Homo sapiens: one gene and its partners. The protein of the gene in region 2 purifies or fractionates together with the protein of the main gene of each other region. This does not show direct contact. Each region holds a gene or a part of one and is shown on either strand. Other genes may lie near its edges.

Region 1 (3,749 bases), on a different chromosome or scaffold from region 2:
TCACAGGCTACTCTCTAATCCTGGCCAAAACCTTGGGCCTCAGATCTAACCTCTGAGGCTCTGGGCTCTCAAACCAGCAGATCTGGTATAAAAGGGCTGATCCTGAAGGGCCTCTAAAGAGACATGGATTCTGTCTCCCTCCTGGGGAGACTTCACCAGCCCCTGCCAGCATTCACCACCAACCACTTGTCTTCTTCCTAGAAACCAACCACCCCCACCACGCCAGGACATCAGTCTTCTCAGAAACGTCAAGTCTGTTTCCATGTAACTGTGCAATTAAATTCTATTATATCAGGGCTCAAATATTATGTATCAATTAGATACATGTTGTCAAGTGACCGAGAAATTCAGGGCAAACGTCGTTTCAGTTGGCCTTACTGCTGTGCCCAGCTGGGGCCATACAGATGGATGAAGCTACTCAGAGCTGTGGGCCATATCCCCATATTTGATTTTTAAGAAAGTTTATGTGGAAGAAAAGAGTGATGCACAAAAGAGTTTCAGTTTTTTTTCTTTTTTTTTGAGACAGAGTCTCACTCTGTCTGTTGCCCAGGCTGGAGTACAGTGGCATGATCTCAGCTCACTGCAACCTCTGCCTCCCAGGCTCAAGCGACTCTCTTGCCTCAGCCTCCCGAGTATCTGGGATTACAGGTGCCTGCCACCACGCCCAGCTAATTTTTGTATTTTTAATAGAGACGGGCTTTCACCATGTTGGCCAGGCTGGTGTTGAACTCCTGACCTCAAGTGATCCACCCTCCTCAGCCTCCCAAAGTGCTGGGATTACAGGTGTGAGCCACTGGGCCCAGAAGAGTTTCAGTTTCTTCTTCGCTCTCCCCTCAGGATGTTGTCCATGTTGGAACTTTCCCTCCAATCTAATGGCCAGGATTCCCTGTCTCCCAACTTCCCACCTCCTAAATGACTGTGCAAGAAAAAGACTTTATATAACAGGATGGGGATGGAGAAGAGGGACTGAACTCTATTCAGTGAAGTGCTGCTCTGCATGGCTTAGAAGGGTGGGGCCCCACTGGGCTTGGTGGCTCAAGCCTGTAATCCCAGCGCTTTGGGATGCCAAGGCAGGCGGATCACCTGAGGTCAGGAGCCTGGCCAACATGGCGAAACCCCATCTCTACTAAAATAAAAATTCAAAAATTAGCCGGGTGTGGTGGTGCGTGCCTGTAATCCCAGCTACTCAGAAGGCTGAGACAGGAGAATCCCTTGAACCTGGGAGGCGGAGGTTGCAGTGAGCTGAGATGGCACCACTGCCTTCCAGCCCGGATGATGAAGCAAGACTCCATCCCCCACCAAAAAAAAAAAAAAAAAAAAAAAGGGGGGGGGGGCCCAGAGGGATAGCCCGTCCCTGACTCATCAATGACCTGCAGGCCCTTATGGCAAAGCCTCCTGGGACCCTTGAGATAACTTCTGCACCCTTTAGATGCCTTTTTACTCTTCTCCAGACATCAGAATTTGGTGGCCCACACCCACTACCTGATGCTTAGGACCTCCTGCCCCACCCTTCTAAGCCATGCAGAGCAAACCAGTCTTCTGACTGAGTTTTTACTTGGCAAGTCTGCACACACATGGAGTGGCTGCAGAGCCCACAGGAAAAGCTGCCCCGGCCAAGCCCTGGCCTCCACCTTAATCAATCCCTGGGCCCTTGTTCTCCACCCCACAGCCCTGTGCTTCAAACTTGCTCCTGTTGCCATAAGAGGACATGACACCCCTAGTTCCAGCCCACCTCCTTAGGCTCAGCCTGGGCCCCAGTGCTATTTTCCTACTGTTTATCCACGTAGTTCCTGGGATAGGATCCTCAGCTCTGCCTGGAAGTTAGTGCTGTGTGCACACACATGAACCAGGAGCCATACACCCTCTCACAACTGGCTGTGCCCAAAAGGATGATCAAGCCCAGACCTTGGCCAGCAGCGGTGACCTGCTTCTCCAGGAAGCACTGCTCAGGCCACCATCAGGAGAGTGCAGCAGCAACAAAGGCAAGCCAGACAGCCCAGAGGCATCACCCTACGTTTTGCCACATTTCTGAGACTCAAACTGGGTTGCTGTGAAGATCGGATGAGATGAGCCATGTTAGGTGTTTAGAACAGTGCCGGCATGACAACGTAAATATCGGCCGTTATTTCACTCCTTTCTCCCCATTTTCTTTGCTCCACTCTACCACACTCCCGTCTGGTACCCCAACAGCCAAGCCTACCGTCGGGGTCTTTGCATGTGCCCATGTGCCAGCTCTGCTCTTCCCTATCTTCTTCACCTGGCACACTCTGATTCGTGTCTCTGCCAAGATGCCTTCCTTGACGCCTGGGACCATGTAAGGTCCACCTACCCTTCACCAACAGCAACAAGCGCAACCACTTGCTCAACTTCTCTCAGGCCCCCTCAGCTGCAAGCTACATGAAGACAGGGATTGGCTCCACCAGCACTGCCAAGCCGCTGTGCTAGGGCTCTCAACATTCAGCAGATGTGCCTGGGATCTAAAAACATCCACAGTTCCTCAACTGTAACTGCCAAATCCAAGAAGCACTAAAACACAGAAGTTTTCTAAACTCAATTGGCAGTAAAACCTCATCCAGCCTCATTTGGTAAAATCTGATCTGATCTAATATGGGGCTATTTATAGTCTTTTCTCTCTCCTGCTGTGGCTATTCATACATTTTGCTACAGAAATAAACATGGTGGCTTATGCCATGCTGCTTCTGATCTTCCACTACAGAGTAAATTCACCAGATCATCTTTTCAAAATCCAAAAAATTCTCAATTCTGAAATACATCTAGGACCAAGAACTTCAAAACTATGAAAATGGAAGTACAAAGTTACTCATTGACTGCTAGCATCCCATGTCAAGCCCTCCAGCCCTTTAACCTGAACTCATTCCTTCGTAGGAAACACTGTTTTAAGTCTGGACTCTTGATGTAGTTTCCCAGCTGGTCCACCTGTCACTAATCTTGCTTCCCTCTCACAAACCTTCCCAACAGCAACAGCGCATCCTTCCTGACAAGTACACCTGGTCACGACATTAACTTGCTTTAAAAACCATCAGAGGCTGCACTGCCCACAAACTCAAACTCAAACTCATTATGATGACATCCAAAGCCCTTCAGACAGACTGTCTGAAACATCCCTTTTCAACCTTACCTCCAACCACTAACCCCATGGACCCTGCACTCTGGCCTCAGCAGGCTGCTTTTTCCCCAGTAAGCATATACCTGGACGCTGCTGTGTCTCTGCTCCAGCTGGTCCCTCATCCTGGAATTTGACCCACAGCGCCACCTGCCAGCCACCCACACATCCTTTCAGGCCACTTCAGGTGACTCCTTCTGTAACATCACAGACAGAGCCAGGCCTCCCTATGACTACACTCCCACAGCACTCTCTCCACGCTGTAACAGAATCTGTGGCCACGCTGACCTGACTCCCACCTTCCTCCTTAGGAAAAAAGACTCTATGACCTCTGTGCCCACCACAGTGCTTGGCACATGTATGAGGTTCAAGTGGCTGGATGGAAGACTGCTTGCACTATTACCGAAATCAGGGAGAAAGATGGCCAACGCAGCAGCAAGAGAGTGAAGTGTGACATTTTCCAGAGATGACCGCACATATCCCATTCCATATGCTCTTCTTACAAGTGATAAAGACACTCCTGCCTCCAGAGCTGAGGGTCTATGTTCCCTCCCTTTGGTTCTGGGAAGAGATGCTATGTGACTTGTGAGACTAACTCATAAAAGGCAGTAGTTTCCACCTGGTC
Region 2 (3,749 bases):
ATTAGGTATATCTCCAAATGCTATCCCTCCCCGCTCCCAGAACTGTTTTCAAGAGAGATTCATGTAATTACTGACAATCAACAAGCACTGGCAAGTGAGCTAAAACACATCGGCAATTTCTGTTCTAAAAAGTTTTAAGTGTGCTGTGTAGAGAGTGGCATGCTTGGATGACATAAACTGGGCAAGCCTTTGAGGAAATGCATCACCCTGATTACTATAGTTTTAAGGCTACTTAAAAGGTCCCTATGTCCAAAGAATACCCTCTCTGCTCACTGGATAGCAGGTGAAATTCCACAATCTGAGCTTCAATCCTTGAGGTTAATGCTTAGTAATAAAGTTAAACTAAACTATCACCCAATTTAAGCAATTTATACATTGTGAAAAGAGAACAATGCAACTCAGATGAAATTTTCCTAAATCTCCAGTTATGGTAATCTTAGTTAATGCTTTATTGTCACTATACCAATAGTTTTGCATGTATTTAAAATGACGCTACTCATAGTAATTGCTTATCTGCTCAGTGGAGCAATTTAGGACTACCCGGCAGTCTTTTAAAACCTTGGCATTTATGAAGATTAAAAACTTGAATGGTGATATGGTTTAGATTTGTGTTACCTGCCCAAATCTCATGGTGAACTGTAATCCCCAATGTTGGAGATGGGGCCTGGTGGGAGGTGATTGGATCATGGGGGCGGTTTCTCATGGTTAAAACCATCACCCCTTGATGCTGTGGTCACAGTAGTGAGTTCTCGTGAGATCTGATTGTTTAAAAATATGTGGCACCTCCCAATTCTCTTCCTCCTGCTCCAGTCATGTGAAGTGCTGGCTCCCCGTTTGCCTTCTGCCATGATTGTAAGTTGCCTGAGACCTCCCCAGCATCATGCTTCCTGTATAGCCTGCAGAACCATGAGCCAGTTAAACCTCTTTTCTTTATAAATTGCCCAGTCTCAGGTATTTCTTTTTAGCAATGCGAAAACAGACTAATACAAATGGAGATGCCTATTCTTAACTCTTATCAAATAAAATCTGACTAGGTTAATCATCACCTCAACTTAGAGAATCTGAATTTCAGAAAACTTGAGGGGCAATTCTCAAATGCTATATATAATTTGCAAATGAAACTACATTTGCCCCAATATTTTTAATTTTGCAGATAGGCAACTAAAACACAAGGAGATTAAGTGATTTATGCAAATTTTAGTGATAGAATTTCAACTAGATATAGAACCAAAATAATAGAAACCTTGCTTTCAGATTTATTAGTTCAACAACGATTATATTGGCAATGTCATTTTACAATTGAGATCATTGGTAGAATACCGAGACTATAATAAAATAGGGATCAAAAAGATTTGGAACTTTTGAATTTCAAATTCAGCCAAAGGCTCATAGAAGGCAAGCAAAATTAAGTGGGACTCAGGAAAAGAAGAAACTAAATAATTAAAGCAGCTCCAATAATAGCAAACTACAATAACAATGACAGAGGCTAATATTTACTGAGCTTTTGCTAACTGTCAGACATTGTTTTTAGACATTATCTAATGTAATTAGATTCCTTTCAGCATCCCCATAAAATTCTATCATTATGTTTGTTTTACAAATGTCAAAGGGAAGTTAAGGCATTGCTCAAGGTTATACTAATAAGTGGTAAATTCAGGTTGGAACCCAGGCAGTCTGCATATGCTTGAAACTGCTATATATATTTTCTCTTGTAAATCTTATTCTCCATGTTCATATTGTAACACCAGAAAGATATAGCATAAGACCAAAGACAGTCTTGGGTAAACCTGACAGTCTTCTTTTCAGGGTGTCTTCACCCACTCTTCAGTCATCCCTAGCCAGGAATGCAGGACCTTGTGTTACTCTTAGGATGACCACAATCTCTACTGTGACAATGAACCGTGATGTGTTTCCTCCTCTCCACTCTTAAACGTCTTACTCTCATAAAAACAACATCGCACCCTGTCCCACACCCTTAGAGACCTGTTTCTTCTGGGGATAATCCTAATAATTAGTGTATGTTTTGCTATCAAGAGTTGTTCATGTGTTAACCTTGGTGGATAACAGAACTGTTTTCTTAAACCAAAGAAATAACTATTATAATAATAGTAGAGATTTCAGACACTGAGGTGGCCCATTATAAAAATGACAAATGTGACTGTAGGCCTCTGCAAGCATACCAGTGCTACACAGGTGTGGCCCTTTATTTTTCTCATAAGAATGACCATTAAAGATAGCAGCTGAACTTAATGAGCACCGATTATGTCCCAGGCAGTGTTATAATAGTGTGCTCTTCCCTCACCTTGTCTCAACTCATTTAACTATTATGACAAACCTGTGAGGTACTATTATTATTCATATTTTACAGATGAAGAAGCTAAGCCACAGAAAGATTAAGTAAATTTCAAAAAATAAAAATAAAAATCCAAAAAGGAACTAGTTAATGGCAGAGCCACAGTCAGAACTCTTTCAGGCTCTTGAGTATATATTCCCTTAGGATAAACACCTAGAACAATGCCTGCCACAAAGTACGTGCTCAATAAGTATCTGTTGAATGAATATTGCTCCAGGCATAATACCAGCCCAGTAATGGAGACACAAGTCCATGGGTGATATTTAACCCTTAAGATCCATATATAACATTAAGAGGAAGTAATTTTAAAACTGTCTATATCAACCATGGGACAATTTACTGCAAAAGGCTAAAAAGATTACTATAGTGTTAATGTTCGCATTTAGTCACTCTATGCTTCCTCTCTTCTTTCCTTACCTACCACGTGGTTTAAAAGTTCAAATCACATGGCAGGTAAATGAAGGCTTGCAGCTGACGTCCATACTCAGGTTTGATGCTTGACAGGTGGCATGACTGAGAGCAGTCCATGGTTTGCAAAGCAGTGGTTGGCTACATGTAGTATGTTTAACTTTATTCTGTGTTGACATGGCACTGTATCATTTTTAGTACATCGTAAAGCACACAGTAATGGGTAACAGCAAAAATCCTGCCAAAGGATAAAACAGATATGACTGTATTAAAAAAAATTTTAAAAAGGGGGAGGAATCCATTAGTCTGAATTTCATCCCTTAGAAGTAGCCTGAGTTTACATAAGCCTCCAAAGCTTTCTCAGAGTAGATGGGATCTTATTTTTGTCAAAATAGATAGATAGGGGCAGGAGGATATCCTAGTGTGAGAAGTTGGAAGTGGCTGAGAGATCTGTGCACTTTTCCTGTAATCTGCTTTGTTTTACTATACAATAAGAGAATAAGACCCAGGTCTTTTCTTTGTTGTGAGAAACACCAGAAGGATTAATGCAGTAACAGCTGCACTGTACAGCACTCAGCATTGTAAGCTAGATAGAGCCTCTGTGGATGCAAATACTTTTCTTGTCTTCTGCTCTGGGAAGTAATCACAGAGTTCACACCTTGGGATTTCACCCTGTGCTTTCCTCCATGGTACTCTCAACAGGTATCCACTGTTGTTTCATGAGCCACATCTCAATGGAAATTCCTGTCCAGAGCCATCTGTCTGGAATAGTTAACGTAGTTTTTGGTTTTGCCCTCTGGGCTTCCAAAATCTGATTCAAAGTGTAATAAGGGGAGTAGAATTGCGTGCGGATTTGGAATTAGACCAAGAGAGGCTCATGAGAGTATTGTAATAACTGCCATAAAGGGAGGTGTCATAGGGGGAAAAAAAGGATTTTGTATTATGATAACTTTTAATGGCTGAAACTACAGAGTAACATTAACTGCTC
Region 3 (3,749 bases), on a different chromosome or scaffold from region 2:
ACTGAACTCGCACATGCCGCGCGGTGGATACCCTTCCAAAGGGAACAGACTGTGTCCGCTTTGCTTATTTTTGGTAACTTTAAATAAGACTTTGGATGGGTCGTCTTCCCAACTCATTTACCAATTTAACCACTGGACGCAGGACTGAGCGCCCCACAGCTTTCGGCCGGAGTATAACACGCGCTTCCCCACTCGGTTCCCCCTGTCTGCCACAAACAAACCAGATGTAATAGCTGAAGAATGACGACACTAAAATCAACCTAGAGATTCACATCTAAAAGGGCCGCAACACGAAATAAACTTCTCTCTCTTCAGAGGCAGCGGGGAAGAAAAAGAAAAAAAAGCCTAGGTGGGTTCGGTTTGATCCATTTCCGCGACTCCGTGCGCTCAGGGGCTCTGGGCTGGTGCGGGCGGCTTAACCCTGTGAGAGCCGAGAACGACCCCACCGGGATACGCGGGCCCCGGGCTGGCGGGGGGTGCCTCACGCCGCGCCCGTTCCCCCGCCAGCAGGTGCCCGAAGCCACCCCAACAGGCCGGGTGCGAATGCCGGAACATGGCCACTTTCCTGAGCGGGATGATGCCGCCGCCGCCGCCGCACGCCGCCCAGCACTTTGTTAACTTGGCGCGCCCGGGCGAGGTGGCTCCCAGGAGGTGATCATTGCCGTCCGAGAGCTACAGAGCCCCTGGCCTCGCCCAGCACGGGTGTGGGGCCGCGGCGGGAGGAAGAGGTTGGGTAGCAGCCGCTAACCAGGGGCCCGCACGCCTGGCCCCTCGGAGCCCCGCGCCCCCTTCCCAGGTGCTTACCTGAGGGAAGGAGCCCTCGCGGCGCGGGTTCCTGGGGTAGTCTAAGTGACCCCGGTCCAGCATCAGGTAGAGCGAGAAAATCACCACACAGAAGATCGCACTGCCGAACACGGTGAACTGGCGGCTTAACTTCATTTTCCTCGATAGACTCGGGGCCAGGACACTCTCCTCAGCCAAAGGAGACAGCGCACTGTGGACTCTAGGAAGCAGCCGCCGGAGGCTCCCTTCTCCCGGGCTGCGCGACCTCCGCGCTCTCGGATGCGGGTGCGAGTCCCCGCCTTGCTCCGCACCTAGTCTCCGGCGCCACCACACGCCCTTGGCCTTCGCCCTGGCCTGCCGCCCTCCCCGGGGTCGGGCGCCCCTCTCGAGGCGAGACTCGCCGGCAACTGGGAAGGGGGGCCCCCACAAACTTGATCGCAAGCTCAGCGCCGACCTCCGGCAGGGCGCGCGGGGCAGGCGGAGGAGAGGTCGCTGCCCGCACTTCCTGCCACCGCCGCCCCAACTGAGTCGGCAGGAAAAGTTTTCTCGACGAGGGCAGGCGTGTCCTCCTCACCCAGGGGAGGCGCGGGTTCGGCAGCTCCCGGGCCGGGGCCGCGCAGCTAGGTCAGAGAAGCGGAGGGGAAAGGAACAAGATCGCGAGGAGCCAAGCCCTACAACTTCTGGGCGGGACGGTCGGGCCCGCCCCCGCGGCACCGGCACCGCCCCCGCCTACCCCGACTGAGCCCCTTCGTGCTGCTGCCGCCGCCGCCGCCGACGCTGCGGCTGGGCCGATGTGCACCCCGGACTCCGGGGCTCACGGATTGATGAGTTTCCTCAGAGCTAGCGTCCGCTCGCCAGACTCTCCCGCCCCCCGCCGCCCCTACCTTCCCCCTCCCGGACCCAGGCTCCGCGGGGAGGCGCAGGGGGCGGGCGGCGGCAACGCGGAAAGAAGGAAAAGGAGAGCAGGGAGGAAAGGACCGTCCCCGGAGAGAAGCCCGCTCCAGCTGCAGCCGCTAGCCCCCTCCCTCTTTCCCGCCCCACAAACGCGGAGATGGCGGCGGAAGCGGCGAAAGGAAGCGCCGGTTCTCCAGCGCCACTTGGCGCTCCAGCACCGCCCGCCACGAGCAGGAGGAGACAGCGGCGGCGCAGCAGCCGCTGGGTCAATAGGCGCCCGCAGCGCCTGAGCCGAGCGGGCGGCTGGCCCCGCCCCCTCCCGACGCTCCGAGATGAGGGGGCGGGCCCCACGGCGCCCAATCACAGCGCGTCGCCCGGCGGACCCGCCCCGCGCCTGCCTCCCAGTGTCCCGGCGATAGGAAGACCTCACAGGGCTCTTGTGACCTGGCAGGCAGCTTTCTGGGAGTTGAGGCCTTCGGGGGCGTTCAGGCGCCAGCACCCCCACGTCCAACAGGGGTTGAGCTTACACCCCACTTCCCTTTGTTGCTCAGGTTTCCTATCCTAGGACACTCGGGCCTGGCGTGCCTGGAAGAGTACTTGGTGACGGGCTGGAGGAAATGCAAGAGAAGAGGGCTTGCACATTCTCTTCGGGCTCACTATTTCCTCCTTTGGTGACAGCCTGTTAAAACCTGGGGGAAAGGAGACTGACAAAGGGCCGTCCAGGCACATGTAGAAACATCTGACTACGAAATCCATGAGTGTAATCTGAGAAGTGATGCTTCTGCCAGTTATTGATTTATTGCCTCTCAGCTCCAAATTCGCCCTTTTTGACTGCACTGTAAAAACGGATCTGAGCCTTTTAAACAGTTTTTCGTTTGCCTTCTGGGACTGAAGCTTTATCAGCAGAGGGCGCTGAAGAGACATTACAGAAAAAAAGGATTTTGCTTCCTGATTTCTGTGTATTGATAAGCTTTTGCAGCATACCTGGCTTTCTCCACTGCCAAGGTCCTATAGTGCTCAGTAACTAGCAATTTCCTCTCACATGCCCAACTCTAGGAGCTTTGTAGAGGAGGTGAGACACTACCCCATGAATAACTTCCCTGGCACCCTAGAGGCATTTGCAGCAAGTTGCAGAGGGCACATCTTCCACAAGCTTTGCAGACGTAGCCCAATGGTGACTTCTCTGCCATTCAGTGAGCCAGGTCATGCCCTCTCCAAAAACGTCTAGATCTTAGCCCTGGGAGGAATTGGGGAGGTTCTTCATTGGGCACTCTGTCTCTCAACCCAAGAGTTAGTTATAAGGTTAGCTCCTTATAGCTGCTGTTGCTATATTCTTTAAAGTTCTCTTCTTGCTAGTGAATCCTTCATTACTCTAATCCTCTATTATAGTTAACAATTCTTTTTATTAAGCCTTCCCTGTCCCGGGAGTAGTCCCAAGAAATAGACCTGCAAAGATGGGATTAAAGGTCAGTTTGATTGAGGTTTTGAGCTTTAGCTCCTTGCCAAAGGGAAATGTAATTCATGACATGCTGGGCATCTCAATTAAGCAATTACCTGTGGTTGATCCTGATGAAGTGCCAACTGAAGCCTGTGCCTTGGGGCCCCAAGTGGCTGCTACACTTGACTGCTATGGTTATAAAGATGACTAGAAAGACTGGTGTGGGATGGATTCTTTTGCGTGCTTTTGAGTGGTTATAAAGAGAAATGACAAGCACAGGTTTTTTAACTCTCAGAGTTATGGTATGAGAACCAGAGATATTCTGCAGAATTCCAAAAGCTCTGGTTTATTGTAGCAACAAGAATTATGCTGAGAATCAAACAAAATTTTAATTTTCATGTTACTGAATTATAACTGCTATTAAATTCACACATATTCTGAGTTTTTCGTGTAAAATGGTGTTATTTTTTAATAATAGAATCTCAATACTTGAAATGGGTTGGACCCAGATGAAACCGACAATCTTAAACACGCCAACTCTTTCTCTTATCAGTGGAAGTAGGTTGCCCTCCAGTGTCTAAAGAGACTAGCCTTGCTTGAAAACCTTGACTATAGAGGATGCCACTATCTAGAT

The links.
Region 1: the proteins of FUT8 (region 2) and MGAT1 purify together in Homo sapiens (affinity purification with mass spectrometry; 2 studies listed by BioGRID and IntAct, with this or other methods). This does not show direct contact.
Region 3: the proteins of FUT8 (region 2) and MAN2A1 purify together in Homo sapiens (affinity purification with mass spectrometry; 2 studies listed by BioGRID and IntAct, with this or other methods). This does not show direct contact.

What each region holds. Positions count from the first base shown.
Region 1 is NC_000005.10:180,796,107-180,799,855, forward strand, and holds part of MGAT1 (alpha-1,3-mannosyl-glycoprotein 2-beta-N-acetylglucosaminyltransferase), read right to left. Parts: intron 1-3,749. UniProt on the Homo sapiens protein: Initiates complex N-linked carbohydrate formation. Essential for the conversion of high-mannose to hybrid and complex N-glycans.
Region 2 is NC_000014.9:65,737,714-65,741,462, reverse strand, and holds part of FUT8 (alpha-(1,6)-fucosyltransferase), read right to left. Parts: intron 1-3,749. UniProt on the Homo sapiens protein: Catalyzes the addition of fucose in alpha 1-6 linkage to the first GlcNAc residue, next to the peptide chains in N-glycans.
Region 3 is NC_000005.10:109,687,608-109,691,356, reverse strand, and holds the start of MAN2A1 (alpha-mannosidase 2), read right to left. Parts: upstream 1,431-3,749; 5' UTR 940-1,430; coding exon 805-939; exon of another isoform or gene 258-804; intron 1-257. UniProt on the Homo sapiens protein: Catalyzes the first committed step in the biosynthesis of complex N-glycans. It controls conversion of high mannose to complex N-glycans; the final hydrolytic step in the N-glycan maturation pathway.